Linked DNA regions of Homo sapiens: regions 1, 2, 3, 4, 5 and 7 are each reported to be linked to region 6. The links are microRNA targets in miRTarBase. Many come from high-throughput screens and were not tested one by one. Region 6 holds a microRNA gene; each other region holds the end of a gene's coding sequence. Distances are from middle to middle.
Evidence for each region. The annotated mature microRNA hsa-miR-3133 reads UAAAGAACUCUUAAAACCCAAU and lies in region 6 at 1,595-1,616, opposite strand. An mRNA with a match to its seed (bases 2 to 7 or 8) in the 3' UTR can be bound and repressed. Matches are read on the target gene's strand: a 7mer-m8 pairs with bases 2 to 8, a 7mer-A1 pairs with bases 2 to 7 and ends in A, and an 8mer does both.

Region 1 (4,077 bases), not on the chromosome of region 6:
CGGCATTGAGCTGAGGCCATCAGGAGCCTCCCAGCTAGAGAGGCTTTGGGAATAGCTGTGGGAGCAAGAGAAGGAACGGGGAGGGGAGAAGAAGGTGGGCAGAGAAGGTGTGGAAGGAGGAAGAGCAAGAGTGAGGGATGAGAAATGCCTGGTTTACAAAAACCAATCCACTTCTACAGGCCTTAATCAAAAGAAAGACAAACGCTCATGTAAAAATCCACACCTAGAGGCTCTCAGGCACAGAGCGATCACAGGAGAGGCAGAGTGTGCAAACAAGCTTTCATTAAGAGACCTGTCAGCTCTGTTTCATTTCTCCAGGCTGCTCTGCATTCTGCTGGCAATCCAGCCGGAAAAATAATGGAAGGACAAACACGTCTGAACAGGCAAACAAAGGTGGGAACATTCCACCTACAGAACAGGACAGATCAGAAAGATGCCAGGGAGGGGGGATGAGATGGCTTTTTTCTGAGCAAACAACCATAGCCCCTCCCCTTAACTCCAAACTCATCGGAAACATGATTTTCTGGCTTTTTATGCAGCAACAAAAAGACATGGGGTTCAGAGACAGCACCATTGGTTGTCTATTCCCAACTCTCTTACACATCCCAAGATATGATTCTGTTTTGGTGTTCAGCCTTTTAGAGTCTGAATGTCTAGCGACAGGGCCCTTCTTCAGTTCTTAAGGGTGAATCTTGGTGAACCTAAACAGATCATGGTAATACCATCTCCCTTGCTAAGAAATGGTTAAGACATTGCCATGTGACATCATCATGTGACAAGGTCTCATGCGACCACAAGCCCCAGGTGATCATTCTGACCAATAAAATGTGATAGGAACTGGGTTTCTCGCTCTTGAAACACACACACACACGTATGTGGGAAGAAACTTCCTTCTGCCTTTGAACAGGTGTTATCTGGAGCTGTTGCAGCCACCTCGTTATCATGAGAAAGCAGCTGACACAGCAGGAAGAGCAGGAAGATGGAAACCTAGAACCTTGACAACTTTCTTGAATGTATAGCCCTGGAATGCCTTACTTTCGAAGTTCCTGTTATACAACATAATTCATTTCCCTACCGCTTAAGTTTCTGTTAAGTGTGGCTTGAAGCTGAGAGGACCATGACTGATGCAGGGTTATCTAGTGAAGTAGGGGACAGAATGCCACAACCTTAAACTTTGATCCTAAAAAAGACAAAAGACAGCTGTAAGTAATTGCAGAAAGCCCCTTTAATGTCTGTGGAACAGAAGAACCATGTTGGATGGGGAAAGCAGGGGCAGGACACACGTGTCGCGTATCTATGGGGTGTTATCAGGGTTATATCTGTGACAGGATCAACTAACTTACTGGCTCTCATTTCACCTGATAACATAAGACCCTCCCCGCTGACTACACACAGTTTAGGTTATCACTCCTTATGACTCCTGCTCCCTGCCCTGCACCCTAGATTCTCTGGGACTCACTGCAGTTTTCCTGACTCTGATGGAATGTGCTGGAGTCTATTACGAGCCCTGCTTTTCAGAAGGTGCTCAACAGGCCCTGAAGATGTGCATCTGGCCGATGGTGGGTCAAAACCAGAGTTCTGCAGGCTGAGATTTTTCCTTTTATTATTATTAAACTTGGCTGTGTTTTCCTTCGGTGGCTCTGGCATCCTATGCAGTAGTGCTGGACATTTGCAGGCAGTTAAGGCCCAGTACAGCAGGAAGAATGATTTCTGTGACTGCTGGTCTGTGCAAGCCCTCCAGCTGCGGGAGCAACCTCCCTTGAGGAGAAGTTGTGGGGGTGGGCCTGGTGGGGAGGGCGATAGGCTGGGACAGAAGGAAGGATGGAATACTGGACCTGGTGGCCAGGGGTCAATGGGATGTCCTTCTCACCAGAAGCAACAGAACGCCGACTCCAGCATGCTCCCATTTCAACTAAAGTAGTGGGAGACCCACCCAATGTGCATCAAAGGCCTGGGTCCTTCTGGGCTGCACTTTGAGGAGGAGCAGCATAGTAAGGGATGGGGCGCCCATTCTGCTAGCAGAGTGATTCCTGGAGATGCAATCTGGGAGGGATGTATCCACGTGGCTGACCCCTCGTGTCCAGATGTCACATCTTAGTGTCATGAGCCTGGTATAAACATTGAATTTTTAGGATGCATTTTCACTGAGAGGCTACCACTCTGGGAGCCTCTCTTTTTCCTGCAAGGAGCGCCTCTCAAAGGAGTGATTCTGGTTCTCAGAGGCATTCTGAGCTTTGGGATCTAGTCTCAGGCTTTCCAGGGAAGGAAAAAGCTATGGCTGGATGACTTTTAGTTTTCTGCAGTGCCGGATGCCAACTAGAAAAGCTCATTTTTATCTGAAAGGAAAGAACCAGCTAGAATTGAGCATGCCCTCCTTTCCCATCCCTGTATCATGTCCTTGGTTCCACATCCCCCCTTGCCATGCTGTTGTGAAGTTGTTTTGTTTTCCTCTCTCTTTCCCATAAAAGGTCATGAGCTCTGTTTCTGTCTTTAAGATTCCCGTACTTGGTGGCACAAATGAGGCAGCCTCAACATTCTGTTGAAGGAGTGAAGGGTTTGGAAGTTCCAGGTGGTGCAGGAAACTAGACTGGCTCCCAGCAGGTAGATCTTTCCCAAACCTGAAATGGCCATACAATCCTGTATGTGAGACAGGCTGAATGCAGAGAATGAGCATTTCCAGGTGGTAGCTCTCATCTCATCTCACAAAAAAAACCAGACCACCACTGGGAGTCCTGTTCCCCGGCTTTTATGCTCACCCCTCCCAGTCACTTCAGATCAGTTAATTCTCCAGATTTACAAGCTAGAAAACTCCAGCTCTGGCACTCAGCACACAGGCCTCAACCGGGGCTGTGGATTTCAACCCAGAAGCCCAAACTTCTCAGCCGGCTTAAGGCCCCTTCCAACTGCCAGTCTGTACCACGACAGCAGTGCTGTGGGCACAATGCCAAGCACACCCATGCCAGGCAGTCCTCCTGGGCCCTGACTTGATGGGGTGCAGCCATGGGTCCTCTGGACACGTTTTGCTCAATTATACCTTCCTCTCCAGCTGCCTAACCTTGACCAAGATGGGGACCTGATTAAAAACCCCATCAGTTTCTAGCTCTTCCCATAATTTTGATTGACAACATTAAATGCTAATACAAAAACATCTTATCTCTGATAAAACAAAAGCTGACAGAAAGACGGATGCTGAAAACCAGCCATATGGTGGACACGATTCCTGGGCCTGGCCCTGTTCACAGTAGCACTCTCTGGCAGAAAAGAGATGACACTGAGAAGCTTGAGGACCTACATTTAATAAATCAAACTGTACTGGCATCATCAGAATATTCACAGTTTGCAACAGGATCAGTGCGTTTTCTCACTTGCAGACTCGGAGGTATTTCAGGAGAAGGCGACGTGAGCGCACCATTCCGATGCTTCATTCTTGACCCTCTCTGGGGCTTTCAATGTGTCATTGTGTCAGATCCCTCTCCCCTTCAGGTTTTCACGGTGCTCCTCATGCCTCCGCCCTCTGGGATCCCTTTGCCGTCTTCCGGTGTGGAAGCTTTGGCTGCTGGCCGGCTGGCCTCGAAGGAGTCCAGGTGAGATTTAGGGAGCTCCCCCTGGATGGCCAGGCCTGGCGGGGCTGGCCCCGTCTCACTCCTCTGACCTTCTATGGGACTCTCTCTTCTGACCTCTTCCAGTTCTGCAGCTGCCTGTTCCTTTGTCAGTTTAATTATTTCCCTCCCAAGGCTGTTTACTTCTTCCTCAGAAGGTAACTGGGGTAATGAAGGATGAAAGAGCTTGCATTGGTTCCCGCGGCTCTGATTTGCTGGGGAGTTGACAGCGGGCCTCCCAGCATCCTCAGGCGCTGTCAACGCCTCAGCAGCGGCACAACTTTCATCTTCTTCTTGCTTCTGAGCCTCCCCTGAAAACAGAACGAGGACAACATTAAACCTCTGGCAGCAAATCAGCCCTCACCGCCCCTCTTCTGCCAACCTCCTGCCCAGCCTACCAGCACAGGGCCTCTGAAAAAGGAGCAAGACTTTTTTGGCTCCCTGTGCAGGGCAATGGAGCCAAAGGGGAACACAGGAC
Region 2 (4,077 bases), not on the chromosome of region 6:
AGAGCAGCAGCTCCGTGAAGAAAGATGAGACTAATGTGAAGATGGAGTCTGAGGGGGGTGCAGATGACTCTGCTGAGGAGGGGGACCTACTGGATGATGATGATAATGAAGATCGGGGGGATGACCAGGTGAAAACCACGGGAAAGGAAAGAAAAAGGTGGTGGAGGGGGGCTCAGGGACACATGGAGTGCCTCTAACTCCATCCTGTTTGTGTCTGTTTCTCACAGCTGGAGTTGATCAAGGATGATGAAAAAGAGGCTGAGGAAGGAGAGGATGACAGAGACAGCGCCAATGGCGAGGATGACTCTTAAGCACATAGTGGGGTTTAGAAATCTTATCCCATTATTTCTTTACCTAGGCGCTTGTCTAAGATCAAATTTTTCACCAGATCCTCTCCCCTAGTATCTTCAGCACATGCTCACTGTTCTCCCCATCCTTGTCCTTCCCATGTTCATTAATTCATATTGCCCCGCGCCTAGTCCCATTTTCACTTCCTTTGACGCTCCTAGTAGTTTTGTTAAGTCTTACCCTGTAATTTTTGCTTTTAATTTTGATACCTCTTTATGACTTAACAATAAAAAGGATGTATGGTTTTTATCAACTGTCTCCAAAATAATCTCTTGTTATGCAGGGAGTACAGTTCTTTTCATTCATACATAAGTTCAGTAGTTGCTTCCCTAACTGCAAAGGCAATCTCATTTAGTTGAGTAGCTCTTGAAAGCAGCTTTGAGTTAGAAGTATGTGTGTTACACCCTCACATTAGTGTGCTGTGTGGGGCAGTTCAACACAAATGTAACAATGTATTTTTGTGAATGAGAGTTGGCATGTCAAATGCATCCTCTAGAAAAATAATTAGTGTTATAGTCTTAAGATTTGTTTTCTAAAGTTGATACTGTGGGTTATTTTTGTGAACAGCCTGATGTTTGGGACCTTTTTTCCTCAAAATAAACAAGTCCTTATTAAACCAGGAATTTGGAGAAAAAAAAAACCCTGGTTTTTTATTTTTGTATTTTATTATTGTTTACTTCAAACTTTGTTTTACAGCGTCCTCCACAAAACCTCTAGAATGCACTAGATATATTTTTCTTGGAGTCATAATCATGATGCATACCAACACAACACTACTCAAATTATATTTCATTGAGATGCATGTTGCATTGAGGAGTCAACTTGACATAGAGTGGAGACTTTTTCAAAATGGCTTTTACATCCTAATGAAAGTTTGGGAAGTATATCCTCTCTGCCTTTTCATCAGTGCTTTGTGGTCCAGCTGGCACCCTTTCTGAGGTTTGTGTTTTGTGCTAAATGGTTTTGTCCTTAAATAGGAGAGGCTCAAAAACATCAAGATTTCAGGAAAATGGCGACAGCTGCATAATGGAACCCCCCTGCTTCTATTTTGTTCTTTTAATTACTATTTATAGCCCCAGTTACCTTCTGAATTCTGAAGTGTATATACCTCCATGTTCCTGAAAACAAGAAAACTCTTACTTCCTGATATTCCATAGACTGCCTTCCCAGGTGATTGAGAACATAGAGAATGTTACACATTTATTTTACTCTAAATGATCTTTTACCCCTGTTAGCTAATCTTTGTGTTTTCCTCAACTTTATTAATTACAGTGATTGCATTTTTAGCATCCAGTTGTAAGATGAATATATTAAACAGCTACCAGTGTTGGTGATACCTCATCCTTGAAAGGCTTAGTTCATTTGTGTTTTATACTTCAGTTTTTCCAGCATAGCAGAAAATGCCGCTTATAATTTTTGTGCACACAAACCTTGGATTCCCCTGTAAAGTTGCTATTGTTTCATAGCATGCGGCACTGGCCTTTTTTCATCCTACTCATTACAGGCAAAACTCATGTCTTATTTATGAGGATTTTATAGATCATTTTCTGTAACAGGTGACAAAAGCAGAAAAGAATGAAGAGGCTGAAGTATGAACTACCCTTGGAGCCCATATACATGATATAGGCAATTTCTTTTGTATGTTAATTCAGTCAAAAATACTACCCACTTGATGTTTTCTAATCTGATGTGAGCTCATGTTACACAGACTTTTAGTAAGTAACCCGTGACTAGAAAATAAACTGGATGCTTAGGAGAGAGTGTCAGATGTATAAGATGCTAATAAAACCTGTTTAATATTATTGTTAGCTGTAAGTTTTTGGGAAATACTGAACAAATTAGTCCACAATCAAGTGTCTACTTTTCCCTTCACTGTAGGGCCTCTCCCTGCACAGAGCAGTCTGTTTAGCTGTGAACACCACAATCTGCAGATGTTCAAGTCCCTTACATAAAATGGCATAGTATTTATATGTAACCTATGCATATTCTCCTGTATATTTTAAATCATCTCTACATTAAAATACCTGATAAAATGTAAATGGTATGTAAATAGTTGTAACTTTTTTTATTTATATTTTTGTTAACTTTTTTTAGTTTTTTTTCTTTGCTAGTATTTTCGATCTGTAGTTGGCTGAATCTGCATGTGCAGAACCCATGAACATGGGGGGCCAACTATACATTTTATTCTAGGAAAGCAGGTATTGAATGAAGCTGTGGAGAGCGCTTTTTAATATTAGGTTGGTGCAAAAGTAATTGTGGCTTTTGCCATTACTTTTAATTAGCTGCAGTTACTTTTGCAAATAGCCGTAGAGCATGATCACAGATTGAAAATCTATACACACATATGGTAGGGTTGTTGGAATACTGACATGTCTAGTTTGTGTTGATGGGGAAGTCATTTCACGCTCTTGGTTTTAGGCTACGCTACTGTGGCTTAAATTTCCTCGTGTTTAAGACAACAGTACTCTAGGTTTTCTATAATCACAGGTGTACTCATTGAGTACTTTGACATTTAGGTTCCTAGGCCAAAACTGTAGCAAAGTAAAGAGACCAGGATTGAAATACCACATGGTAAAAGGCTTTTAAAAATCTGATCTAATGCAGATAAGTACAGGCTTTTTGGGAAAGGGGCTAGTGTTTTTAAAGGCCATTTATCAGATGATATGCTTATAGTCAGTGTGACATTACTTAACCCTGGGCCCTGCAAAGTAAGAATTGAGTTGGCTCAATAGAAATTCAGAATAGTAGGCATGGCAGTGCAGGTAAAGGGGTTAGATCTGACGGTAATAATTGAGTGATTTCTGATTTAATAATTGAGGGATTTCAGATTGATAGTCTGATTACACTGCAGTAGTGGAAGTAAGATTTAAAAGTAAAAACATTTTAATTTGGGATAAAATTCAGAACACAAGTTTCTCAATATGCCATGAAATCTAAGAAAATGTCCTGCAATCATTCAAGAATGCAGTTTTCATTTCAGGGTTAGAAAGCAGGAGAGGAGGTAGATAAAAAATCCTTAGTAACATTTTTTTCTGGTGCTGCATAACGTATAATTGGGAAACTTCTTCTAGGGTAATTAATAAATTGCTGCTGTCTCAGTGGGATGAGCTAACTGGAAGCTGTCAGGTGGGAATGGATGCTAAATTTGGGATTCTCAAAAGGAGGGCTCCTCTTGTATTTCACTTCTGATGTTAATATTACCCCAACATGCAAAGATTGTGTGATTAGTACCTATTACTTACGTGGTTTAAATCCTCTTTTTCAGAGGGAACCGGGTGTAATAGAAAAGGAAAATAATGTAAATGGGAACAAAAAGGTGGTAAATTGGAAGGAAATGAACAGGTGTCAAATTAGGATTGGGAAGAATGTAATAGTACAATAGACGTAACCATCATTTAAACCATAAGATAACCATGAAGTGTGAACATACGAATCTACTATAACTTGGCAGTATGTTTTATTCAAGTGTTAGGGGAAGCAAAACCCAGTGTATAATATAGAAAGTACAGAAGTAGAGCAGATGATACACTATATGCAAGTACTAGTGTTTTGAGATAACCTTGATGAAACAATGTGCTTTTGAAAGTAGTCGCAGGATAGAGAAATTGTGTATATTTAATGTGATCAGCTCAGGAACATATGCCTGGCCTGTCAGCATTGACTGACCAATTTTATTTCAGGGGAAAACCAGAAAACATACTTATTCCTACTGACAGTTGACCTTTTTAT
Region 3 (4,075 bases), not on the chromosome of region 6:
TACCTATTACTTGTTTATAATATGTAGAATAATCTACATAACCTAGTATACATAAGTATGTATTATATATGCATATAATAGATACATAGATACAGGAAAAATTTGTAATTACAAATGTCTTACAAAAGAAAAATTATGTCAACTGACTAAATAGTTTCTTACAGAGTAGTATGATTTTTTTAAAAAAGTCCCCAGTTGCTAAAATATCAACTTTTCCTTGATAAATTTGATTTTTATTAATTTGGCTAAATGTGTATTTTTTTCCTAGTCTTAAAAAAATTGGCACAATAGCTTATGCCTGTAATCCCAACACTTTGGGAGGCTGAGGTAGCAGGATAGCTTGAGCCCAGGAGTTGGAGACCAGCCTGGTTAACATAGTGAGACCTCATCTCTACAAAAACTTTAAAAAGTACTCAAGCATGGTGGCACATACCTGTAACCCAGTTACTCAGGAGGCTGAGGCAGGAGGATTGCTTGAGCCTAGGTCAGGGCTTCAGTGATGTATTCGTGCCACTGCACTCAAGCCTGGGTGACAGAATGAGACCCTGTGTCAAAAAAAGAAGAGAAAAAAGTAAAATTAAAAAAAATACTTCAAATTGTTGCATAAAGGGAAAAGTAAGAACTAGATTAATTACAGATAGAGCTGTTCTTATCTATGCTTCTTTTTTTCTCCAGATGTCCTTGCTCCACAGTATCCATGGCAGTCAAATGACATGTCGATGAATATGTTACCACCAAATCATAGTAGTGACTTTTTGTTGGAACCTCCTGGGCATAATAAAGAAAATGAAGATGATGTAGAGATTATGTCAACGGACTCCTCAAGCAGTAGTAGTGAGTCTGATTGAAAAACCTTAAAAGACAATATACAGAATTGAATACTGTAGAATTCTGTTTCTTTAACAGTAGCAGGGAAATGTAAACTACAGGTGACAAAAAATACCCAGGTAAACACTGGCTTTGGTAGAATTGTGCAGTCATTAAAAGTCAAAATTTTTTGACTTTCTTTTTAAAGCCAAAGACCATAGTTTTAGTTTTAAGCCACTAGGTAGATATTTAGGGGAATAGTCAAAATTTACTGTTGAAAAAGCAGTTGCTATGTGCTTTCTTACCCTGTTCTGTTCCAGTTTTGCTGGATTTGTACATAGCCATTCTAGAAATAGAGTTGAGGGAAATTATCCATATACATATCACTAATAGGCTTCTTGGAATTATTTAGAAAAGCATTTTTAAACTGGCAGTGGATGACTGAATAGGCATCATATTTCTTTTTGTGTGTCATTTAAAAGTAACAAAAACTGCCATTTGACAGTAAAGGCTCTTGGCTTCTGTTGGAGGCATGGGAAATTGTCTCAATTTGTACAGTTTGTAATTGTAATTTTTGTAAATAAATTTGTTTGTACATTGTATGCTTTTTTTTTAGTTTAAATATACTGTCAGTGTAGGTAGGAAATTATTTCTGTAAATCCAGTTGCATTTTATAATACTTGAGTGACTAACTGAATTGAAACCTATTACAATTAATAGGGTTCTCAAAGGCCTATTCCTATTAGAAGAAATAATTTTTTTTAATAATTGAAAAAATTTACCACAGCCTTGTCTGATTTTAAGAATAGATTGTGTGAAGATTTAGAATGGAAAGCAACCATTTCTTCCCTTCACCTTCCTCTTCTTACAGTTCCCCAGGAGTCATTTTTAACCACTTTTAATTTCTGTTGGTAACCTCTGTGTTTAGGTAATATGCTTATACAACTATTTCTTGATGTATCAGTTTTAGACAATGTATCTTCTGATTTCAAAGGTAATACAACATTTAATGTGAAACATTTAGTGAATACAGTAAAGGAGAAAATAAAATTGTTAGCATTCTACCCAGAGATAATATCAATTCATATTGTAGTGTAGATTTTTTTAAAGTTCACATACACTTTTTTGTAAAATGAGAATAATGTTTATTTCCTGAGATACTGCTGTATTTTTTAATTGCTAATCTGTATTCTTCAAATGAACTGAGAATTCCATTTTTCCATCATTTTTTCCTTTTGATTATTTTCGATCTCTAGAAAAATTGGAAAATAGGAGATTAATCTTATATTTTCACCATCTAGAATTAAGGACATACAATGTTTGAATGTCTTTCCCTCCAGGGTTATTTTTAGGAATGGACTAACACAATATCTAATTTTAACCTTGCCTTGTCCGTATACTAGGAATATTGATCCATGTGTATACATTCTTGAAAGATTTACTTTAATGGCTAAAATTTTATTGTGGTATGTGCCATAATGTAACTGCCTGTTTTTATCACCAAATCTTTAGGGTAGATTCAAAAGGATTGTGTTTTTCAAATTCTTTAATACTGTATTAGTTTTCAGTTGCTGCCGTAACAAATTACCACAAACTTGGCTCAAAACAACACAAATTTATCTTAGTTTTGTACATCACAAATGTGAAGTGGGTCTCACCTAAAATCAAGGTGTGAGCAGGGCTGCATTCCTTCCTGGAGGCCATAGGGGAGAATCTGTCCCCTGTGTCTTCCAGGTTTTAGAGGCCGCCCTTGGTCCTGCTCCAGGCCCCTGGTTGGTGAGTGTTTCTCATTCTGCATTACTGTGATGCTCTTCTGCCTACCTGTCCCATATTTAAAGGATCCTGTGATCATTCTGAGCCCACTGGATAACCCAGAATAATCTTCTTATTTAAAGTGAGATGATTAGCAACCTTTATTCTGTTTGCAACCTTAATTCTTCCTTGCCATGTAACAAAACAACATTCATAGGTTCTGTAGATTGGGATTTAGACATCTTTGGGGAAAGGGGGTCATTATCCAGCCTATCAGAAATAATCCAAACTTTTCCCCTGAAAATTACACAAATATACATTCTATCAGTACTAAGTCAATATCATAAGTCTATATATTTCTGAATTTTTTTTTTTTTGGAGACGGAGTCTTGCTCTGTCACCCAGCCTGGAGTGCAGTGGCTCTATCTCGGCTCACTGCAAGCTCCACCTCCTGGGTTCACGCCATTCTCCTGCCTTAGCCTCCTGAGTAGCTGGGACTACAGGTGCCCACCACCACGCCTGGCTAATTTTTTTGTATTTTTAGTAGAGACGGGGTTTCACCATGTTAGCCAGGATGGTCTTGATCTCCTGACCTCGTGATCCACCCTCCTCAGCCTCCCAAAGTGTTGGGATTACAGGTGTGAGCCACTGCGCCCAGCCTGAAAAATTTTTTTAAAGGTTTTTGTGTGTGTCCCAGTAGATGCCCTTAAAATAACTGCCTCTGGAAATGATGTCTATAAAAGGTCATAAACTCAAATTTATCTTCAGAGACGAGGCCACTCACACAAATGTAAGGAGTTGGCTAGATATTACTTAACAGGGAGTGGTAGAAATTTTGGCCAAAACTAGAGTGTATGCCCAGGCTTTTAAAATTAGATTATATAAACTGTGGGACAAATCTAGCCCAAAAGTGCCTGTTTTGTTTGTTTGTTTCTTTGTTTTTCCAGAGATGAGGTCTTACTTTGTTGCTCAGGCTGTTCATGAACTCATGGCCTCAGGCAATCCTCTTGCCTTAGCCTCTCAGAGTTCTGGGATTACAGGCCACCATGCTGGGCTCAGAAGTACCAGTTTTTGATCTTGGTATAACTTTGTGCAGTTGTCGCTTTGGGAAGCTAGAGTGAGATCTGCCTAAGAATTATGTATTCTGAGGTTGTGAGTGGACAAATCCATCCCTCAGCTGCATCAGCAGTTATTTTTAAGTGGTAAAGGGAAACACCTTGGGGATAAAAACAAAGGGTAGAGGAAGAAAAACATTTGCAAAGCCACACTTCTGTAGGCAGATTTCTAAATTTGTTCATAGGAAGTTACTATCTTGTATTTGTTTCTCCAATGTCCCCTCTAAGGAAATCTGTAGGCTGTTTATTCTTTCCTACTGATAAGTATAACTTTTAACTCTGGGGATGTCGGTCAGCTTTTTTGAAATGATCTTGGTGCTAGAAAGACTTGTAACTGTTTAAGGGTCTCTCTTCCACTAATCTTATCCTCCTAAACTTCTGCCATACTTGTGACATGTGAA
Region 4 (4,000 bases), not on the chromosome of region 6:
CTCAAAAAAAACAGGTAAAGTCAAAAAACTTAGCCATACTTCCTCATTTATGGTATTTTGTGGTTGTATCCACATGCTCTTCTACTCGTGAACAACAGGAGAAAATGAGCCTGGGATTCTTGTTCCACATCTTTGTCTATCACCATCATCATCGGTTTGGGGATTTGCAGCCGCCTGGGCATTGGGCTTTCTGAGCTGGGGCTTTTGTGTACAGCTGAGCGAGCACTCACGTGTTGCTCACCATCCCAACACCGTTTGACCCTTGCTCTCCCTCTTGCTCACAGGAAGCCTTGGAATCCTGCCAGACTCGCATTTCTAAGCTGGAGCTCCACCAGCAAGAGCAGCAAGCTCTGCAGACAGACACCGTGAATGCTAAAGTTCTCCTGGGGAGGTGCATCAACGTGATCCTGGCCTTCATGACTGTCATCTTAGTGTGTGTGTCCACCATCGCGAAGTTCGTCTCACCCATGATGAAGAGTCGCTGCCACATTCTTGGCACCTTCTTTGCCGTGACTCTTCTTGCTATATTTTGTAAAAACTGGGACCATATCCTGTGTGCCATAGAAAGGATGATAATACCAAGATGAAGCCACTGGTTCCTGCCTTCAAGTTCTTTCAAGTTTTTATTTTAAAGAAAACTCTGTGCATACTACCAAATTTTACAGTGAATGATTGTGCGGACTCGTGTGTAAGAAAAACTAGGACTGTGTGGTGTAAATAACTACAATTCTCTTAACTCCGTAGCAGTTGCCAACTCAGTCCTTGTACTTCGTTAACACGAATCTGTTTCAGAGCTCTCCTACCTTGCTCACTGCCTTAATCAGACCGATTTCCTGCCCACCTGACCAGCCCAGCGTGGTAAACCTCTGTATATTGAGACCTTGGCATAATTGGTGATCCTGAAGAAAGAGGTCTCTCTCCTAAGTCTCTGTCAGAATTGAGCTTCACAATTGCTAATGGTTGTTTTCTGTGAGTCCTATAAAAAGCAAGGATATGCATGATTCAGGGAATGAAGAATCACAGGCTTGGGCAGTGTTAAACACTGTGGCCTATGGTCCCCGTGTGATCCACCCTGCTTCTCTCCAGGGGACCATAGGTCCCGTCATGTACTCAGTGTCCACAGCAGTCAGTCGTGTATGACCCTGTAACGTGGAAATCTTATCACACACCTGTTATCCAACAAGTCTACCTGAGGGGTTTTGTTACACTTTAAATGGGAAGGCATAGGGATTTATGAATGGGGCTTTCACCTTCTCATACCCAGGCAACCAACACCTGATTTTGTCTCAACTGGCTAGCAAATGCCCAGCCTTCAGAGTGTGCAGGAATGTTTTCAAATCCCTCATCAGACTGTGACTTTAACATTAATTTGGAATCCTGTGAGCACTACTCTGAAGGTTTGTGTTTTGGCAAATCTTTTTTCTTTTTTGAGACAGGGCTCTGCTAAATATTGCTCAGGCTGGTTGCAAACTCCTTGCTTCAAGGGATCCTCCCACCTCAGCCTCCCAAGCAGCCGGGACTGCAGGCACAAGCCACCATGCCTGGCTGTTTTTTGGCAAATCTTGATTGTGATAAGCCCCCCTGGAGGATATGATTCACTTTATGTGATTCATCTTATTCACAGGTCTGTGAGGGACTGCAAAGCTTACTCAGGAAATGAAAACAAATGATGGTCATGTTGCAGTTTTTTCCTTGAAGGACAACCGAACCATAGCCTCTAAAGTTCAAGTGCACTGAGGTGTCGGAACGCTGAAAGCATGAGGAAACGAGGACGTAGGGTGTGACTGAATGGTGGCTAGATTAGTGGGAGCAGTTCACCTGGATGAAGATTGAGAGCATCGTCTTTGAGAAGTGAAAGACTAGCAAGAATAAAATAAATTAAGTCCAGTGTTTGAGCCAAGGTTGCCACCTGTCTCTTAACATCTCACTGAACATAAGTCCTGAGGTATTAGGACGACCATACTGCCTCTGAGCTGAAAACATTCAAAAGTTCACATCCCTGTTTGGGGGATACCATTCACCGCCTTCAGCCCAGATGATACTTTCCTTTAAATCTGTGTCTCTGTGTGTATAACAAAGAGGAAGATGGAAACAATGTTCATGGAAACTGCTGTTGAGCCCCTTGTCCCACCACTCCCGCCATCTGCTGCAGGCAGGAAGGCATGTGAGTGTACGTTTTCTTCCAGGAGACATCAGGTCCCCCTGGATTCAAATTAAGTGCAATATTTTGCAAACAGCTCTTCTTAGGGAAATCTCCTGAAGGAAAAAAATGTGACAGAATGTTCCATAGTCTGAGAGAATGGAATCGTTGAGCATTTAGTACAAGTCCAGTGTGTGTGAGCGGGACTTAGGCAGCTCAAGCTTGCTTTTTTTTTTAAGCGTACAATTGAGTGGTTTTAGTAAATTCACAAACTTGTTCAACCATCACCACTATCTAATTCCAGACTCACGCTTTTTTAAACAATAAATGTCATTTCATGAAATCTTTGGTGATAAAGTATTTTGGATTCAGAGAAGAGCTCCCTTACCAGTCCCACCCTGATCTCATGGCTGTCTCTCCTTTCATTGTCAGACTCCCCCTGGTCTACCGCGTTGATGTGTATACACTGATCTTTCAAGTCTGGGAGACAGATAAGGAGGCCAGGTGCAAGGCAGGGAGGCAGAGAGAATGTTGTGCTTCCTTTAGCTTTTGTATTTCGATGGCCAGCATTACCCTTTACCTGTGGGCATCAGACTCAGCGTGGGCTGAGTGCTGAGTGTAACTTACACTCCTAAATCAAGCTGGGGCCTGGGTGGGCCCCTCTTGGTATCTGTGAATCTTTCCAAGCACCACTTCGGACACACCAGGGATTGAGTGCTGCTGTTAGTTTAGAGAAGGAGAGATGTCTAACCCTTGAGGTGAAGGGCTCTGGGAGGGTCCAAGAAGACGTAGGCTTCATTTTCACACCAGCCCACACCATTCCAGTGCTCAGCCTAGCAAATGTGCTTTAATGCACACTTCTCAGACCTGTGATCCGTGTATCTTCTCCCCAGTGACAGAAGTAGAGAAGAGAATGGAAAGCAGCACACTCCGTCCCCTCTAGTCTGGAGCTGTTAACAGAATCTGCTAGAAACTAGCTTTATTCTAACATACCGTAGGATCTAAATCCTCCTACCTGGATCATGAATTCCTTTGAAATAATTCATATTTTCATTGACTCTCACTAAATGTCAAATAACCTTGTTTTCACTTGGATAGGCTCAACCTACCTGGCATATTTATTTTGCAGTCTTGTTGAAAGTTCATGAAACTTTGTACTTTTTAATAAGATGATACACTCGAAGGAAACTTTTAATCTCTGCAGTTTATTCTCTCTTAAGGAATAAACACTCCCACTGTTTGTTCTCTTCAATGTGTAAGGAGATTAAATGACATTTTAGAAATATTACAATTAAAAATAGTGATGTAGCTGTAACATATGCTGGAATTGGATATTTAATTTATGTTTGTGTCAACTATAATCCTTTCCCCACCCCTTTCATTTATGGTAAACATCTTGGGCAAACCCAAAGATGGAAAGTGCTTGTTGGGTGGGTAAGCACCACCTGGTCTCTCAGCAAACACTCCTGAGTGGTTGAAGATGCTGGACATTGGATTCTAGCACTGGGTTTATCTGGTGACATAGTCTCCTGTGGGTCTTGAGTTGGTTATTTCAAGCTCAAACTCTGAATATGATTAAACCAGAACACCCCACCCCCAACTGCCAAAAAAAAAAAAAAAAAATGGAAATCCATAATGAAACAGCAAAAAAGTACTCCGTTGCTGGGTTTGGACAATGAACATGGGATTAGTCCCAAGTTTGTAGCTTGGAACGGTAGCATTTTTGCCTGCGTGATCCTTGTCAGCTATTCACAGAAGGAAATCTTCCGAAACTCCGTCTTTCATTTCAGCCGGTGAGGCTGTTATCCTTCTCTGTCAATTAGCATTCATGTGGTTTTCGCTCTTTCCAGCTCTGTCACT
Region 5 (4,070 bases), 210 Mb from region 6:
ATATTTGAACTGATCATTAATCAATTCATTTTGCAGATCATTGGTTTAGGTGTACTCAGGAGACCAACAACAATATCTTCTCTTTGTTTGACCCCTCCTGTGTCACATGTATGATCACAGAAGAGACCATGTTTTTGGAAGAGAAACAGAACTGGCTTTCCATTGAGGCAAATGAGGGGGCTGCCCCATGGTGGAGACACACAGAAGGGTGGGAGAGGGACTCTATCTTTCATTGGAATAGTCTAGTAAGTTACCAGTTCTAACTTGGCATCTAGGACATATAAATCATGCATTTACTTATCCAGCAACCTTTTCTAAGCACCTTCTCTGTGTCAGGCCCTGTGCTAGGTGGAGCTGGAAGATATAGCTCACTTGCTTGTAAGGAACTTGAAGTCTGTGTGGGGGACAAATGTATAAACAGAAAATTACAGTTCACCATCTTAGTGTTCCAGAGGAAAGAAGCACTTAGTATGAGGTACCAGGAAGAGGTGGGGAGAAGGGAGTGGCTTTACATCCTTAAGTTCTGGGTGTTTGAAGAGCAGCCTTAGACACTAGCCACGGAGGTGGGCTTGGGTAGGCCCCGCCGTGGGGTTTGAAGACCCAAAAGATGTTGGGTCAAGGAGGACATGGGTGTCTAGTGTGGGAGCAAGCAGAAGGGTGAGCTCACCGAAGCACTGTTTTACCCACTGTACTACGTTTCTATTGCTGCTAAAACAAATTGCCACAAACTTAGTGGCTTAAAACAAGGGCGTTATCTTCCAGTTCTGGAGGGCAGGAGTCTAACTCAGGTCTCCCTGGGCTAGAATCGAGGTGTCAGCAGGGCTGGGTTCCTTTCTGGAGGCTTTGGGGGAGCATCCATTTCCTTGCCTTGCCCAGCTTCTAGAGGCCACCTGCATTCCTGAGTTCATGGCTCCCTTCTGTCTTCAAAGCCAACAACAGTGGGTGAGTCACTCTCACATTGTTTCACTTTGACCTCTTCTTTTATTTTTCTGAGACAGGATCTTGCTCTGTTGCCCAGGCTGAAGTGCAGTGACATGATTATGGCTCACTGCACCCTTGACCTCCAGGGCTCAAATGATCCTTCCATCTCAGCCTCCCAAGTAGCTGGGACTACAGGCATGTAGTACCATGCTCGGCTAATTTTTCTATTTTTTGTAAAGATGGGGTCTCGCTGTTGTCCAGGCTAGTCTCCAACTCCTGCGCTCAAGTGATCCTCCTGCCTTGGCCTCCCAAAATGGTGGGATTACAGACATGAGCCACCACACCCTGCCCACTCTGACCCTTTCTGCCTCCTGCTTCCACTCTTATAAACGTTTGCGATGACATTGGACCCACCTGGATAAACCAGGACACTCTCCCTATTTTAAGGTCAGCAGATTAACTTCCTGAATTCCATCTGCAACTTTTTTTTCTTTTTTTTTTTTTTTTGAGACAGGGTTTCAGTCTGTTGCCCAGGCTGGGGTACAGTGGAGCAATCATGGCTCACTGCAGCCTTAACAACAACTGGGCTCAAGTGATCCTTCTGCTTCAGCCTCCTGAGTAGCTGGGACTACAGGCACGTGCCACAACGCCCTTCAAATTTTATTTTTTGTAGAGATGGTGTTTCCCTATGTTGCTCAGGGAAGTCTTGAACTCCTGGGCTCAAGTGATCCTCCCGCTTTGGCCTCCAAAAGTGCTGGGATTACAGGCGTGAGCCACCGCACCTGGCCCACAGGCAGCTTAATTCCCTTTTGCCATGTAACCCACATATTCACAGCTTCTGGGGATTGTGATGTGGACATTGGGGGAGGCACTGTTCTGCCTCCCACACCCACTTTACCTTCAGGGTGAGGTCTCGGCCTGGCCTATCCTTTCATGGTATCTACCTGTAATCATGGGGAAAAGCCTTTAAAAATTAGGCAAGGGAATTAAAATCATCACGATAAGTAAAAGCAGGCAAGGAACTTGCTGGAGGAGAACAGAGATAGAATAAGGCAGAAGTGTCTATGTATGGGGGGGGGGAGTCAAAAGGGGTGGTGGAGGTGATTGAGGAATAAACAGATATGAATTGCTTATTTAAGGCTTGAACCTGGTGTCATGAGAGAAATGGTGGTGGTCTCAAAAGGGGCCATGGGGTGGGGCCACAGAAGAGACACGGCCCCATCTGCATGTTGACCATACTCAGGGTGGTGAGGAAACCAGCGCTGTCCTGCAGCTGGGGGAACCTCAGTGGTCTTTGGGGATGAGCCCTGAACCTCAAGTCAAGAAGTGTGAGTTCTAGTCCAGGTTTCAGCCACGGTGATTGAGTCATGCACGTGGGCCTCTGACCCCTCATCAGTAAACCGGGGGCTGGTCTAGATGACCCCAAGGCTCTCACATTCATTTCTGCACTCTTGGTCTCTGCTGGGCTTCTGGGACATCGGTTAGTATGGCCTTTTGTTAGGCACATGCCAGGACTGGGGCTGTGCAGGTGATGTGGAAGGGTTCCTGATTCCCTGTTCCCACTGGAGCCTGCTCTACAGAAGGAACCCCTTGGATGTTGCTGTCCCGGGCTTCAGCACTCAGAACTCCTTGCTCTTTGTGGCCATCCCAGCTCTCTCTGTCACGTGAGCCCTTGTCCCCAGCTGAATCACTATGATGAGTTGTATGAGCTTTGACAACAGGTGGGGGATGACATGCAGTCCCCCTGACCCAAAGGAGACTGAAACGAAGCACCTCTTGGCCAGGCCACCACGGTGCCCCACAGCCGCTTCACCGGCTGTCCCTTGTCATGGCCACGGGCCCAGACCTAGTTCCTCCTCAGTGACGGGGGGTTGGGGCCCCTACCTGCCCTCAGAGCCCTACCACCAGTGTTGGGCATTGGGGCTAGGCTGGAGCTGGGCTCTGAGCCCAGAGCTGGTGGTGGTTTCCAGGCCTGTGGGAGGGTGACAGTGAGGCTGTGCTGCCGCTATCACCTCCGGAGAGAGCGGTGCATGGGAGGTGGAAAGCACTGGACCTGGACTGTGGCTCAGTTGAGGGACACATGGCATGTACTTTTACCACACAAGTTTATTTAAATAAAAGTGAACACATATGCAGGCTGGTGCCCGAGGGGCAGGGGGTGGGGAGGGCAGGTGGGAAGCAGACAGACAATGGGGTCCAGGCAGAGTTTGTGTGGTGAACCAGGCTGCTGGAGGGAGTGGCTGGGGGCCTCAGGGCAGCGCTGGGATTCAGTGCTGGGGCAGGGGGCCTTGGGTGGGTGAGCCTGGTGCCAGGAGGTCATTTCCATCCCTCACATGCCCCCCTCCCTTTCCCTGACCCCCTGGGCCTACAGCACTACCTCCTCAGCCCCCTCTCCCTCTCCTGACATCAGCCTTCCCCTTAGCTACTGAGAAGCCAAAAGACAAAATAAATTAGAATGGGTGAGTCCTACCCCAGCCCCCAGCCATGGGGAAGGGAAGCCAAGCCAGGCACACTGCGCCGGAGCCCGTGCTGTCAGCTCTGGAAAAGAACAGGTAAAGTGCAAGGAGAATCCAGTAAGTAAAAATATACCAATGACTTTGTCAAATACACAGCTGCTGGCTGTCAGGAGCAGGTGGCTGGCTGGGGCGGGTGGCAGCAGCACCCTGGGAAGTGTTGGGCGACACAGCAGAGAGACAACGGAAATAAATAGGGTGGGTGTGGACAGGGGTCCCACCAACTGGGCCAGCACCACCCAGGACGGGCTTCTGCCTGCTTTCCGGCCCCATGCCCCCAAGCCCCCCTCGCCTGGCTCCCCAGTGCTGCAGCACTGACACAAAGCACCCGGCCGACCGTGTTAGGAAAGGACTATAATGTGGGAGTGGAGCAGGGAGGGAGGCACGGGGAAGCTGTGCAGTCAGCCAGGGCTGCGGCCGCCCTCAGTACTCGTCCTGGTCTTCTTGTTGATGCTCTTCAATCTCATCGTCCTCAGGGGGTGCGAATCCTTCCTGGAGGGTGGGAGAGAGAGGAAAGTGGTGGGCCAGGCAGGCCAGGCAGGGCTTCTCAGGTTCTGTAAGTAGCTGAAGAGCAAGGGGTCAGGAGTCCAGGAGCCCTGCTAATGGGTGACCCTGGGCTAGTGACTTCACCTCTCT
Region 6 (4,077 bases):
TTGAAACGGCACTCAGAAGTAGTGATGATGCAGAAGCCACCTTTGTCAGGAGCTCTGTGAGGCTGATAGCAACCAGCGATCCCACCTGGGAGGCAGAGCAGACTCCTGACTGAGCCTAAGGCCTGGCAGCCAGACCCGAGGCCACGGCGTGCTGGATGCCGATGAGGCCGTGGCCGCTTCCTGCCAGTGAAGCGCAGGCTGCTTTTACAGACTATGTGTAGTACCAAGAACTCTGTCCTTTACATGATCTTCGGGGATTGAGTGGGCTGACTGGGAGCATCTGCCTCAGTCTCTGGCCCCCCTCAAGAGATAGTACCCACCTGGCCAGAATGCTCCTCCCCTTGGGGACACCTGGCCTTGGACAGCTGGACCTGTCTCTCACCACCCACCTCAGAAGCACAAAAGGATTCACACCCAGATCTCTAGAAAAATGATCAAAAGCAGGTTCCTTCTCGCAGCCAAGCTTCCTGGACATGGTAGTTCATTGCATCTTGGGAAAGAGTAAATCATTTTTTCAGCTGTCAATACTGTGTCCCTCACATCCTTGAACCTTGTTCTTGCAAAATCTTGGCCTTCTTTCTGGGTTCACTGGCCATACTGTATGGGGTGTTGTGAAGTTTCTTGGACACCACATAGAGGAACTTGGCCTGATCTTCATTCCCATAGTTGTAAGAAGAGCCATTGCTGACCAGTTGTTCAAACTTCCAGCTGTCGGACATGGTGGACACCACCTGTGTGAGTTCCTCCTCCTGACACTGAAGCACGTGGTACACATGCTTCATGGGCACCTGTGATGTTTTGCTCTCTTGTTCTCTAATTTTGTCCTTTACAAGTTTTATTAATGAAGTGATACTGTAAAATTCTGCTTTTTCCAACACTCCTTCCTCCACAAGGTCTTTGTTAATCACCAGCTTGCCACGTCTCAGGTAGTTCAACACAGGCCCAAAATAGGTGGGGTCTCTGTCCATTAAATAGGCAACAGTTTCATCCTTGTCGGGGTTAGCCTGATACAAGGAGTACAGGAAGTATTTCAGGTCCTGGCACAGCATCTGCTGGGTGGTGAGAAAGTAGGTGCCACCAATGTTGAGCCAGAGCCATTTGGACAAGCTACCGGGTGCTGGGCCACGGCACTCTGAGTCTTGCACTGCAGCAGCACAGGTCGCCCCCGCCAGCCCTGCCCTAAGGCTGCCCCAGGCAGGTGGCAGTGCTCGCATTAATTCCTTTTTTTCTGAGACAGGGTCTCACTCTGTTGTCCAGGCTAAAGTGCAGTGGTGGGATCATAGCTCACTGCAACGTTGAACTCCTGGGCTCAAGCAATGCTCCTACCTTAGCCTCCCGAGTAGCTGGGTCTATAGGTGTGCACCGCTACACTTGGCTGACAATAGTTTCTTAGATATAACATCTAAGACACAAGCAACTAAAGAAAAAAAATAGATAAATTAAAAGCTTTCATGTTGTAAATGAAGGCCACATCAAGACAGTGAAAAGACAACCCACACAATGGGAGAAAATGTTTGCAAATCATAGTCTGATAAAGGTCTAGCATTCAGAATATATAAAGAACTCTTAAAACTCAACAGGTTGTCTTTTTACTATTGGGTTTTAAGAGTTCTTTACAATTTCTGAATAAAATAAAAGGTGGGCAAAGGATTTGAATAGACATTTCTCCAAAAAAGGCCTACAAATGGCCAATAAGCACATGAAAAGATGCTCAATATCATTAGCTATCAGGGAAATACAAATTGTAACCACACAAGACAGCATTACACACTCACTAAAATGGCTAGAACCAAAAAGTGACACATGATGTGAGAAACTGGAAGTCTCATACGAGTTGGTGGGAATGAAAAATGGTTCAGTCACTTTGGAAAACAGTTTGGCAGTTCCTCAAAATGTTAAACATGGAATTACCATATGAACCTGTATATGGTATATACTCAAAACTGAAAACATAAGTCCACACAAAACTTGTACATGAACGTCCACAGCAGCACTATTCGTAACAGCCAAGAAGTGGAAATAACCCAGTGTCCATCAGATGAGTGGAGAGACGTGTGATACATGCATGATGGAGTATGATTCAGCCACAAAAAGGAACATGAGGCCGGGCACGGTGGCTCATGCGTGTAATCCCAGCACTTTGGGAGGCCAAGGTGGGTGGATCACAAGGTCAAGAGCTTGAGACCATCCTGGCCAACATGGTGAAACCCTGTCTCTGCTAAAAATACAAAAATTAGCTGGGCATAGTGGTATGTGCCTGTAGTCCCAGCTACTTGGGAGGCTGAGGCAGGAGAATCACTTGAACCTGGGAGGCGGAGGTTGCAGTGAGCCAAGATCGCGGCACTGCACCCCAGCCTGGTGACAGAGCAAGACTCTGTCTCAAATAAAAAAAAAAAAAAAAAAAAAGGAACATGAATGAACCTTGAAAAGATTATTCTGAGTGAAAGAAGAGTCACAAGAGGCCACATTAATGTGTGATACCATTTCTATGAAATGCCCAGACAGGTAACTCCTTAGAGACAGAAAGCAGATCAGTGGTTGCCAGGGGTTAGGGAGCAGAACGAGGTCCCCACAGAACAGCATCCCCACCCAGAACAGGGTTACCTCAGAACAGAGTCTCCTGAGAACAGGGTTCCCTTCAAAATAGTGATGGGAAGTGACTGTTAATTGCTGTGGGGGTTTCACTTTGGGGTGATGAAAATGTTCTGAATTCGACATTGATGGCTACATAACCTTGTGAAGATACTAAAACCCACTCAATTATATATTTTTTGTATGTATGTATGTGTGTATGTATGTATATATGTACCTATTTTATTTTATTTTATTTATTTTATTTTGAGACGGAGTTTCGCTCATGTTACCCAGGCTAGAGTGCAATGGCGTGATCTTGGTTCACTGCAACCTCCACCTCCCGGGTTCAAGCGATTCTCCTGCCTCAGCCTCCTGCGTAGCTGGGATTACAGGCATGTGCCACCATGCCCTGCTAATTTTTTGTATTTTTAGTAGAGACAGGGTTTCTCCATGTTGGTCTGGCTGGTCTCGAACTCCCAACCTCAGGTGATCTGTCTGCCTTGGCCTCCCAAAGTGCTGGGATTACAGGCGTGAGCCACTGTGCCTGGCTGTATTTACTCATTTTTAACAGAGACAGGGTCTTGCTCTGTTGTCAGGCTGGAGTGCAGTGCTGTGATCAGGGCTTACTCCAGCCTCGACCTCCTTGGCTCAAGCGATCCTCCCATCTCAGTCTCCTGAGTAGCTGGGACCACAGGTGTGCGCCACCACACCCAGCAATTCTTTTTTTTTTTTTTTTTTTTTAATTCATAGAAATGGGGTTTCCCTGTGTTGCTCAGTCTGGTCTTGAACTCCTGGGCTCAAGCGATCCTCCCACCTCAGCCTCCCAAAGTATTCAGATTACAGGTATGAGCCACTGTGCCTGGCCAAAATTATACATTTTAAAATGGTGACTTTTGTGGTATGTAAATTATATCTCAATTGAAAAACCAAAGTAGCTCAAAAAACATTCCCAGAGCAAGGTCACTCACCCTGCCAGGAGCAATGAGGTTCTCTATGCCCACCAGGTCCCGCTGCAGCTCCGTTAGCTTCTGCAGGTTCTCCAGCCGGATGAGAATGTGCTGTAGTGTGGTGGTCACCTCTGTGATGGCTTTCAGGGCGTCTGTGTGGAGAGACCCCTCAGTACAGGTGTACAGGCAGTGGTGTGCACAGCACCCTCCACCCACCACCTTGTGACAGGAACCAGCATTCTAAAAGGCAGTTCTAATTAGAGGTACATCCTACTCGACTCCTTATAGCAGCGGTCCCCAACATTTTTGGTACCAGGGATGGGTTTCATGGAAGACAATTTTTCCACAGACCAGAGGTGGTAGGAATGGTTTGGGGATGAAACTGTTCCACCTCAGATCATCAGGCATTTGTTAGATTCTCACAAGGAGCATACAAACTAGATCCCCCACATGTGCAGTTCACAATAGGGTTTGTGCTCCCATGAGAATCTAATGTTGCTGCTGATCTGACAGGAGGAGGAGCTCAGGTGGTAATGCAAGCAATGGGGAGTGGCTG
Region 7 (4,069 bases), not on the chromosome of region 6:
CCCCTCAGATGCAAGGCAACCCCACTATGGTGCCCCTGCCCCCCGGGGTCCAGCCGCCTCTGCCGCCTGGGGCCCCTCCCCCTCCGCCGCCTCCACCGCCTGGTTCCGCCGGCATGATGTATGCCCCGCCCCCTCCTCCTCCGCCTCCCATGGACCCTTCTAACTTTGTCACCATGATGGGCATGGGGGTGGCGGGCATGCCGCCCTTCGGGATGCCTCCAGCTCCCCCACCGCCTCCACCACAGAACTAGACTTGTTTTTTAAGAAAATATATATTATATATAGAGAGAATTGGTCTCGTTTAAACACGCCGAACCTCACCATATGGAGCCAGACATTGGGACGCACGCATGTGATTGTGTGTGCACGCATGTGTGTGTGTGCACGCACTGGGCTGGGCCAAGCGACTGAGGATTCGCTTGGGAACGGGCAGGTGGTAGTAGGGGCGCCAGCTTGGGCTCTCCTGGCGCCCCGTAGCATCGAGTGTCTTCTTTGTCTTCTTTCTCTCCTCACCCAACTCCCTTTGCCTCTCCCCAAACCGGGCCGCCAGGATCCCTCCCCGCGGCGGCGATGGCCCGAGCCATGAGAGTGAGGACTTTCCGCGCCCATTGGTGACCCTTCCAGGCAGACAGCCTCAGCAACGCCCCTGGTGGACAGGATGGTTCGGCAAAGCAGCCTGAGTTATTTTTGTGGACGGAATCGGAACACGCTGGCTCCATATCGTGAAATTTTTATTAATTTTTTTCTTTTTCCTTTGTTACTTCTTTATCTTTTCCTTTCTTCAGACTCCGTCCAAGGAGATGCTCTCCCCGGTCTTCTGCTGCAATTTAGATTCCTTTCCCTTCTCTCCAGTTCTCCTTCCCTTACCAAGGAGAGGGGAGCAAATGGTTTTGGGCAAGGGCTTTGGCCATTCATGTCAAGCTGGTTGTGGGTTTTTCAAGGTGCCATAGCCACCCCCAAAGATGTTTGTTTAAAGCGTGGGGTTTTTTAATCTCTGCCACCCTTGTCAAGGGAGTCTTGTAAAGTTGCCGAGGGTAGGTTCATCTCCAGGTTTCGGGATTCCCATCCGTCCTGGCGATCCTGCCAGCAGTGGGTGGGCAGCCTGAGCTCCCTCGGGCTCGCCTGCCAGCCTGGAGTTCTTCCTGTGCTCCTTGATCACCTGAGCTGCCTCAGATTCCATTTGGTCCTCTCCTTCCTGGAAGGCTTCCTTTTATGTTTTGTTTTAATCCCAAATGTCTGAATGTTTTGCAGTGTGTAGGGGTTTGAGCCCCTTGTTCATTCTCCTTCCTTTTTCCTCCCGCTTCCCTCTCCATGAAGTGATTCTGTTGACAATAATGTATACTGCGCGTTCTCTTCACTGGTTTATCTGCAGAAATTTCTCTGGGCTTTTTTCGGTGTTAGATTCAACACTGCGCTAAAGCGGGGATGTTCCATTGAATAAAAGAGCAGTGTGGTTTTCTGGGTCTGCTTCTTTATTTTCTTTTTAATGCCTGCCCCGCCCGGTTTTTCTTTTCACATAAACTTCCTCTACCACCAGCAGCAGCAGCAGCACCAAAGGTGCCTTAACTTTCGTTCAGCACCAGGTCCGGGGGGGTGAGACTGTGGGTGGTTAATTAGGGAAGCCCACCACCTGCCTCCTGTGTGTGGCTTTGGTGGTGGGAGCTCAGTGTGTGGGTGGCTCCACAGTCTCCCCTTTGGTGACTAGTTAACATCGCTGAGAACCAATTTTGCCCCTCCTTGTTCACTGCTCATTTTTCTAGTCTCTGTCCTTTGAAGGCTTTTTCCTGGGGCTCAGACGTCCACGTTTGATGAGCTCCAGTGGTGATTTGTGCCTGGAAGCTGCCACCTAAGGCCCTGGGCCTGGGGAGGCATCAACACTAAAGGTCAAGCCAACTAATCCTGCCTGTCAGGCACAGAGCAGCTAAAATTAAAACCGCCAAGTGGCTTTTTTCCTTCTCTGCTGGTGACTTGCAGCCTGCCAGCGCTGTAGGCTTTGGCGGGGGTCGGGGGGACAGGATAAAGTGCCCCATCTTGTGCTTTGCAAGCACTTTTCAAAGGGTCTTCTGCTTTTTTTCCATGTCTTGGGCGGCGAGTGGGTAGTTACTGTTAGGGTTCCAGAAAAATCCATGTGGAGTCTCCACCAGGTAGTGAGGTCCTCTCCTGGGCAGAGGTGCCTTAGAGCTGCCCTGGTTCCACCTGCCTCTCCTTCCTTCAGGGCGGCTGAGGGACAGTAGGCTCCCCCAGCATCTGGCTGCTGGGGCCAGCAACTGGCCTGGGCTGCTTTCCAGCTGTGAGCTAGGGCTGGCTACTGCTGTTTACTGGGGTGTCTGGTCCCCCGTCCAGGAGGCCTGTGCTTTGCTATGGGTCTGCCAGGCTTGAGGAGCCCTCAGAAGCAAGGCAGGCTCAGTGCGTTTCCCCAGCCAAGCCCTAAACTTCGGCTCACCAAAAGGAGGACATCTTTTTTGCCTTTGTCCTTAAGTGGCAGAATGGGGGCAGGGCCTGGGGCCTGGCTACCCTCTTTGACCTTGGCTTCACCTCATTGCTTCTCCCACAAGCTTGGTTTCCCTGGTGGGCTCATTGGGTGGTTAATTAGCTCTTTGAAGCTCTGGAAGCGGCAAAGTGGCGCTATGTGGGTTTTAGAAATAAAATCAATAAATGACTTAACCACAGCTTAGCTATCTCCTCCGCTTCTCTCCCCCAGGCCAGCTCCATTCCTGTGCTCCCTCCCTTTCTGCTCCCTGCCGTCAGCTTTTGTTAAGGTTTTGGAGAGGAAGTGGCTGACTAAGGCATCAGTCTCCAAGGTGCTAGAGGCCCTGAAATGGAAGAGACAGCAGGAAGGCTTGGCCCTCTGAACCGTGGCAAGCACTTGCCTCTGGCAGAATCAGAGAGAGAAAGGCCTGCCCACCTGTCTTAAGACACCTGGGGTGGGAAAGCAAGCCATTTACTCCATCACATTGTGACAGGGCTGTGCTTGCCCCACCCCCTCTCCTCACGTTCATTTCTGCTGCTGTAGCAGCACTGTCCCCGTCCCTCAAGGCCTGGCAAGGCCTGGCAAGAGGAATGCCAGTGGGGAAAGGTCAGCCTCAGGGCTCTGTTACTGAGGTTCAGCCAAGGGCTCTGGAGAAACCCAGGATTGGTCCAAGGAAGGAGGCCGGGTTTCTAGTTAGAAACTTAGACATAAATAACCTCGAGTGAGTTCAGGTTGTAAAAGTGCTTCAGGGTTCATTAAACCTGCATACACAACACCAAGGAGGGGCGGAGGAAGCAGGGAAACAGATGAGATCGTGCTGCCCAGGTGTGATCATGCTGGGCTGGGGCATGCAGTGTCACCCCGGGACAAAGCCTGGAAACAGTGGGGAGTGATGGCATGACAAAGACGGAAAGAAGCCACAGAAAAGGTAGTTGGAGAAAGTTAAAAATTTCCCAGTAAAAATGTTCCTGAGAGCAAGCGCCCTGGGTGCAAGAGGGGAGAGTAGCTGGGAAAGGATGGAATGAACTTGGCCTTCCCTGCCTGTAAGATGTGGATGGTCTATGGGGATCGGGTCCTCAGTGGCAGGAACATAAAGTCTTGCAGGAAATAGGGGTCAATGCAAAGAAGGTGTGTGTGGCCAAAGCAGGCTGCCACGATTGGGCTGTGAGGTGACGGCATGGTTAACAAGCTACTGCCTGCCTGGCAGTGGACTGCCAAGAAGTCTCAGCTCTACTCACAGCAACCCTCCAAGGGACAAGTGCGGGCTGTGAAGAACCTTGGATGCCAGGCCAAGCTGGAGTCCAAGCTGTGCTTAGTGGAGGATGGGGATGAGGCCCAGGAGCTGAGGCTGGGGTGCAAACTGTGAAAGGGGAAGAGACCAGACAGCTGCCAGCATTGTTTTTTTGTTTGTTTTTGAGACAGAGTCTCGCTGTGTCGCCCAGGCTGGTGTGCAGTGGCGTGATCTCGGCTCACTGCAACCTCTGCCTCCCGGGCTCAAGTGATTCTCCTGCCTCAGCCTCCCGAGTAGCTAGGATTACAGGCATGTGCCACCATGCTTGGCTAATATTTGTATTTTTAGTAGAGACGGGGTTTCGCCAT

Region 1: the mRNA of CCDC149 is a reported target of hsa-miR-3133. Seed matches in the 3' UTR shown: 7mer-m8 at 2,345-2,351.
Region 2: the mRNA of HNRNPC is a reported target of hsa-miR-3133. Seed matches in the 3' UTR shown: 7mer-A1 at 347-353, 7mer-m8 at 640-646 and 7mer-m8 at 1,399-1,405.
Region 3: miRTarBase lists MED4 as a target of hsa-miR-3133. Seed matches in the 3' UTR shown: 7mer-A1 at 896-902.
Region 4: miRTarBase lists TMCC3 as a target of hsa-miR-3133. Seed matches in the 3' UTR shown: 7mer-m8 at 610-616.
Region 5: miRTarBase lists MAPRE3 as a target of hsa-miR-3133. Seed matches in the 3' UTR shown: 7mer-m8 at 3,465-3,471.
Region 7: miRTarBase lists SF1 as a target of hsa-miR-3133. Seed matches in the 3' UTR shown: 7mer-A1 at 762-768.

What each region holds. Positions count from the first base shown.
Region 1 is chr4:24,804,910-24,808,986 of GRCh38, forward strand. CCDC149 (coiled-coil domain containing 149) reads right to left here. Exons shown (of 13, transcript NM_001395273.1): 13 at 1-3,910. The coding sequence ends at 3,480. Among named protein-coding and RNA genes, the nearest start is that of SOD3, 11 kb to the left of the region's middle. RefSeq lists an enhancer at 3,834-4,077.
Region 2 is chr14:21,207,457-21,211,533 of GRCh38, reverse strand. HNRNPC (heterogeneous nuclear ribonucleoprotein C) reads left to right here. Exons shown (of 9, transcript NM_004500.4): 8 at 1-128; 9 at 228-2,387. The coding sequence ends at 311. Among named protein-coding and RNA genes, the nearest start is that of LINC00641, 2.6 kb to the right of the region's middle.
Region 3 is chr13:48,073,912-48,077,986 of GRCh38, reverse strand. MED4 (mediator complex subunit 4) reads left to right here. Exons shown (of 7, transcript NM_014166.4): 7 at 676-2,263. The coding sequence ends at 848. MED4-AS1 (MED4 antisense RNA 1) reads right to left here and starts at 850. Exons shown (of 3, transcript NR_046511.1): 1 at 636-850; 2 at 434-545.
Region 4 is chr12:94,568,022-94,572,021 of GRCh38, reverse strand. It overlaps TMCC3 (transmembrane and coiled-coil domain family 3), which reads left to right. Exons shown (of 4, transcript NM_020698.4): 4 at 285-4,000. The coding sequence ends at 587. MIR7844 (microRNA 7844) reads left to right here and starts at 670; the gene lies at 670-791.
Region 5 is chr2:27,026,136-27,030,205 of GRCh38, reverse strand. It overlaps MAPRE3 (microtubule associated protein RP/EB family member 3), which reads right to left. Exons shown (of 7, transcript NM_012326.4): 7 at 2,987-3,926. The coding sequence ends at 3,858. Among named protein-coding and RNA genes, the nearest start is that of TMEM214, 4.8 kb to the left of the region's middle.
Region 6 is chr2:241,475,453-241,479,529 of GRCh38, reverse strand. MIR3133 (microRNA 3133) reads right to left here and starts at 1,625; the gene lies at 1,548-1,625. FARP2 (FERM, ARH/RhoGEF and pleckstrin domain protein 2) reads right to left here. Exons shown (of 27, transcript NM_014808.4): 19 at 3,543-3,673. It also overlaps the pseudogene KCTD5P1.
Region 7 is chr11:64,762,000-64,766,068 of GRCh38, reverse strand. It overlaps SF1 (splicing factor 1), which reads left to right. Exons shown (of 13, transcript NM_004630.4): 13 at 1-1,463. The coding sequence ends at 251. Among named protein-coding and RNA genes, the nearest start is that of PYGM, 4.1 kb to the right of the region's middle. RefSeq lists enhancers at 1-332, 333-1,207, 2,132-2,181, 2,232-2,331, 2,802-2,851 and 3 more.